2 separate regions of the Homo sapiens genome follow, and region 2 is linked to region 1. The links come from fine-mapping of genetic effects on gene expression. A gene starts in region 1. The other region holds a variant in brackets. All regions are shown on one strand. Distances are from middle to middle.

What was found. PIP is the estimated chance that this variant, and not a neighbour inherited with it, causes the effect.
Region 2: its variant is the best candidate, but not a certain one, in a credible set for the expression of NCR3LG1 in monocytes after LPS (Fairfax 2014, PIP 0.87).

Annotation. Positions count from the first base shown.
Region 1 is chr11:17,350,543-17,353,349 of GRCh38, forward strand. It overlaps NCR3LG1 (natural killer cell cytotoxicity receptor 3 ligand 1), which reads left to right and starts at 1,258. Exons shown (of 5, transcript NM_001202439.3): 1 at 1,258-1,497. The coding sequence starts at 1,428. LOC105376576 (a long non-coding RNA gene) reads right to left here and starts at 1,324. Exons shown (of 3, transcript XR_931094.3): 1 at 1,237-1,324; 2 at 495-632; 3 at 271-369. RefSeq lists a silencer at 1,080-1,199 and enhancers at 1,196-1,797, 1,798-2,399, 2,624-2,673.
Region 2 is chr11:17,399,167-17,401,973 of GRCh38, forward strand. All of the region lies in intron 29 of ABCC8 (ATP binding cassette subfamily C member 8), which reads right to left. Among named protein-coding and RNA genes, the nearest start is that of KCNJ11, 12 kb to the left of the region's middle. The variant A/G (reference allele first, on the strand shown) is at 1,147.

The DNA of each region.
Region 1 (2,807 bases):
GTAAAAATTACCAAAAGAGTAATTTGATAATTTCTACAGGGTGATGTGTATGTGTCACAACTTTGTGAATCACTATTCTGGGCATGTATAAGAAGTCGTCATATACCTCCATTGGGAATGTTATTTAATGATGTCACTAATACCAGACAAGGATGTCTCCTCAGGTAAGGCTCCTTGGAGGAGGCAGAGGTTGAGAAGAGGTGTAATTTAGGTTTTAAAAATTCAATAGCTGGACTTAACCTTGCATATCTCTACCTGTTATAACGGTGGTCCGGAAGGCTGCGATCTGAAGGCCCCTCAGCTAGTTGCTGCCACTGTGGGCACTCTGCGCATCTTTCACTTCTGAGCTCTTTCTGTATGCACTCTGTTCTGCAGATAAGTGAGAATGTGACTATTTGCTTAGTCAGTGACAGTGTCTCTAACCCTGGAAAGGAAGCTTTTACTCTCTCAGTTTTAGAGACATGTGAACAGGCTGGGGATATGAGGTCACTTACCCACTGTCTTATAATCAGCAGATGGCATGGTTGGCATTGGAGTTTAGGTCTGTCTGTGCTTTTCTGTACATTACATCCTTTTTAATGATGCGAAGGAAAAATGCAGTAGGGTCAATGAGACAAATGGAATGCAGGTTGCTGGGGAAAGAATGCAGGTTCTGCGTTATAAATGCACACACATTTACTGTGCCACTTGGGTTCTGAACTTTGCGGTTAAATTGATTTAAAAACTGGTGTAGAGGTGGTAAAACTTAATCACCGAATGAGAATATTTGGGTTTGCTTCAGGAGGTCGCAAGCCACTTCTTGATTAGTAGAAATGGGAAATTAAGGGCCACCTTCAGGCGTTTAACTGAATTGTCCTGGGGATTTAATTTGCCTTTCGACTTAATGCTAAATTTTTGTTGTTTTTGGTTTTTAAAGTAATGTAAGTTTATCGCGCCAACGGTAAGATGTCGCTCTGGACGCGTGCACCTGCTCTCGCAATCACCGACTGCGGTCAGCATCTTCCTTAGAGCAGCGCCCCGGGCCACTTGGATCCCGGTCTCAATTTACTAAGCGAACCCAGAGGATGCCCCGAGTCCTGGACCGCAGAGCCGCTCGCGAGAGGCACCGGGGCTGTAACCGCGCAACCTCGTGCCGCGGGCGGAGGCGAGGGAGGATTCCCCGGCCGGTGCCCGCCCCCGGGCTAAAGTGCGGCGCGGGTGGGGCTGGTCACGCGCCTGGCTTCCTGCAGTGCGAACCTGGGAAATCCAGGCGACTTCGCAGTTGCCGAAGGGATCTGAAGAAGTGGGATGTGCAAAAGCGCCGGCTGGAAATCCCGGCTGTGTCTCCGTCAACTCTTTACGCAACAGAGGTCTCCCCCTGCCCTTGGTTTCTACCGGGCCGCCTGCTCCCACTCGGCGAAAAAAATTACACAACAGCAGCCGCGGCGATGACGTGGAGGGCTGCCGCCTCCACGTGCGCGGCGCTCCTGATTCTGCTGTGGGCGCTGACGACCGAAGGTAGGGGGCGGCTGGGGTGGGCTGGGGCGGGGGCTCCTGGCGCCAGAGGGTCCTCGCGGGTCGGCTCCCTAGCATCCCGCCAGGGGACCTCAACTTCCTGGGGGCTGAGAGCTCTATTTTCTTTTCTATTTCTTCTCCTTTTTTTTTTTTTTTTTTTTTGAGACGGAGTCTCGCTCTGTCTCCCAGGCTGGAGTGAAGTGGCGCGATCTCGGCTCACTGCAAGCTCCGCCTCCCAGGTTCACGCCATTCTCCTGCCTCAGACTCCCGAGTAGCTGGGACCACAGGCGCCCGCCACCATGCCCGGCTAATTTTTTGTACTTTTAGTAGAGACGGGGTTTCACAGTGTTAGCCAAGATGGTCTCCTTGACCTAGTGATCCAGCCGCCTCGGCCTCCCAAAGTGCGGGGATTACAGGCGTGAGCCCCCGCGCCCGGCCTGGGGGCTCTATTTTCAAGCGTCCCTCCTTTGTGAGAAGCGGAGTCCCCGATGCAACAGGTTTACATTGAAGGCCTGCCCTGTGCAGGGTCGACACCTGTGAGAGCGGAAACGGTGCTTCCTTGGATGTCGCGCGTTTGGTGCCTCGGTATTTGGCGCCTCTCTCGCATCATCCGAGGGGCCGGAGGAGAGAAGAAAATCAGGGAATCGGTAAATTGGAAAAATCATTCATCCGCATATCAGTGGGTCCTCCTGGCTTTGCTAAGTTAGGTCTTTACTGAGAGAGGGAGGGGAGTGTTTTGATCTTGTGGTGACCTTCAAACGTTCTCTTGCTTTTTTGGGAACTCGTATGGGCGTGTTCTGCGTTAACTTAAACAGGAGACTAAAAGGCTGAAACGCGTATGTAGAGATATTTAAACTCATTTCTAACTAGAAGAATGGCAATTAAACAACAAGATGCTGCTTGACCCTTACTAGGCTGGCCAAAATACGCTCCTGGGTGCCGGGTGGTGGAGGTGGAATGTAGGAATCCCGGAGGCGCGCTCTGGGCGCCCCGAGTCACTGCAGGTGGAGGAGAGCCGCGTGTGGACCTCACCGTGGAGACCTTGGCGGCAGCTTCACACCACGCCCTTGCTGCTTGCCGAGCAGCGTGAACGGATGTTGAAGGCGTAGAGCCAAGTAAACAGTGGACATACAATGCAATACCATTTCCACAGTTTGAGAAACAGAAGATACAGCCTTAAAGAGAACAAAAATTACATGTTAAACACCTTAGAATGGCTGCCCGATGGGAGAGGGAAGTGGAAATAAAAACGAGTGAATAGTATTTCTATACATTTGCAATAAGCAATGTGAAAATAAGACAGTTCCGAGTGA
Region 2 (2,807 bases), 49 kb after region 1:
GAGGCTGAGGAAGCCAGGATAATTGCTTGAACCCGGGAGGTGGAGGTTGCAGTGAGCCAAGATCACCTCACTGCACTCCAGCCTGGGTGACAAAGTGAGACTCTGCCTCAAAAAAAAAAAAAAAAAAAAAAAAAAAAACAAATAAAAAAGAATATTAATGACCTTCCACTGCTTATAGGATGAAGAACCCCCTCCTGCCAACCTAATTCCTGCCACAAACACCCCACACACTATGCTGCAGCCACTCAGCTTTTTAAAAGCTCTGTGACAATACTAAAGTCTTCCCTACCCCAGGGCCTTTGCACACACTATTCCCTTTTCCTGGAAGGCTTTTGCCCTTGCTCTTCATAAGGCTGGCTCAACTCAACCTTCAGGGCTTGCCTTAAATGCTGCCTCCTCAGAGAGGCTCTTCCTGGCTACTACCTTACTATAAAGTAGGTTTCCCCTATTATTGTCTGCAACCTGTTTGCTCCACAGTATCTGCTGTACATGCATTTCTCTAGCTATTTATAATCATCTCCCTCAATAGACTGCAAATTCCATGAAGATGTTTTATTCACCAATATACCCCAGCACCTGGCACTATCAATAAATATTTGTTGGATGAATGCATGGCACTCCCCTGACCCTCTGAAATTGATGGAATCTCTCTGCACAGGGAACTCTGGAGGCTTCTTTCTCATCCTTAGGTCCTCATCATGTTTTCCCTGAGTTACTGCGCATGGACCTGCCTCCTTTCTCTGATCAACCTGGGCTGCCGTCATCACTCTCCTTGGCCGCTTCCCTCAGACCTTGCTGACGTAGGCCCGGCCCAGAGGAGATGCAGGAGCACTTGTTTGATGATGGAGGAAGGAACGAAAGAAAAGCTGCCTCATCATCGCTGGTTTGATAGGACCAAACTCAGGGGACACGGAGGCACCCAAGACGTACCTTACTGGGCATTTGCTTTTCACCCTGGAAGGTGTTAGTTCAGCTTTGATTGTCTCTGCGTGGAGAGAGGGCATGTGTCTGAGGGGACTGAAGGGAGGTTCTGAGGTGGGAGAGAGCATGCTACTGCACACCCCCAGGGTGGAGACGTGTGGGAGGGTGACGTGTCTGCAGTGAGTGTGAAACCATGCCTGAAGGGTAGAGTAAGTGCGTGTTGAA[A/G]ATGTGTGTGCATCAGGGCATGTGCGTGTTATAGGAGTGTGAGGCGCTCAGCGTATGTGGGTCTCAGGACTGTGTGAGTTGAGGGTCGGCAAGTGTGAGATGGGAGCTTCTGCCACAGGCGTGCGACAGTGTGTCTGAGGACTAGAAAAGAGCCCCAGCCTCGGAGCCATGTAAACCCAGGTTGGAGCCTGAACATCACAACTTCCTGGCTGTGTATCAGGACTGAGACTCAGTTTTCTTATGAAAAAAATGGGGAAGTGATAGTTCCTACATGAACGAAAACAACCTCCGAGCCCGCCACTGAGCCCAGTGCTGGGCACTCTTGAAACTCTTTTGGGAAAAAATAAGATCTCTTAGGAAAGCCCAGAAGGTCAGGCAAACCTGGGTTCCAAGCTCAGCGCCAGCCCCCGCAGTCTGTGTGACCTTGGATTGATTACCCAGCCTCTCTGGGTCTCGCTTCTGCATCTGGAGAATGTGGCGATTCGTACCTATGTTATGTGGTCCTTGTGAGGATTAAATGTAATAATGCACATACAACACTTAGCACGGTGCCTGGCATACAGTAAGTGGGCAATCAATAAGTGCTAATAGCTCTCAACAGGCTGCTGGATTAAAGCCAATGCATTAAATGTGTATGGGGTTGATTAAAAAGCCTTTCATTCAAATTTAAAAATCATTCACCGTGTCAGTAGGGTGTGGAAGACCTCACTGGGTAGCAGTGGCTCTGGCTGACCACAGGTTTGGCCTGATCTGAGGCTGTTTACAGGAAGCTGGGATCTGCACACAAGGGGCTGTGGCCCACTCTAGAAGAGTCACCATCTCTCTACCCCAGGGCCCTCTGAGACACCAATTGAGAGAGGGAAATCACCAAAACTTAGAGCAAAGGCTAGGCTCAGTAATGTCGAGGGACCTGGAAGTTGAAGGAACGGGAGAAGTTCAGGCTTGAGAAGAGGAGGCTGGGAGGAGACTCTAGAGTCATAATCCAGTCCCCAGCAAGCTTCTTTGTGGAAGACACAGCATAGGCTTGTCCAGGGGCAAGGGATGTCCAGGGAGCAGCGCCAAGGCCAGGGCAGAGCTTTGCTCTGCTCTTCTTTACTTAGACAAGATCCCTAAGAGGTGGATTTCCACTGGCCCTAGGTGCTCCAGGGTGGGCAGAGGGGCCTGGATACCTCTCCAGGGCTGAAGCTGGACTTCAGGGGTTGGGGGGAGGAGATGTAAGCCTCTCTGGCCCTTGGCTGGTCCTTGTGCCCTATGGTTACTCCTGGACACAGTGCTTGGTGTCTCATGGTTACTGTCATACTTCGTGCAGCTGTGCCACCCTAAAAATAACCTATTATCACTCTCTGGATGAAGATGAGAAAAGAGCCCAACTTTGTGTGTCAGGGGTCTCTGGCCTGCCTGACTGGAAGAGAGATGCCTCTGGAGATCAGACAGACTCTTGGGGAGTGGGAAACAACAGCTTCCCTCATTCCCCAGGCAACCTCAGATGCTCCTGTCCACCCCAACATCACCACTCAGGGTAGTGAGACGATGGCAGGGGCACTGAAGTTTTCAGGAATTCCTCAGCCTGGTGAACTCCTGCCCCTCCTTTGAGTCCTAGTTCTGATGACACCTCTGGTACAAAAACCTTCCCGGACTGTCTCTCTTCTATGCTCCCACAG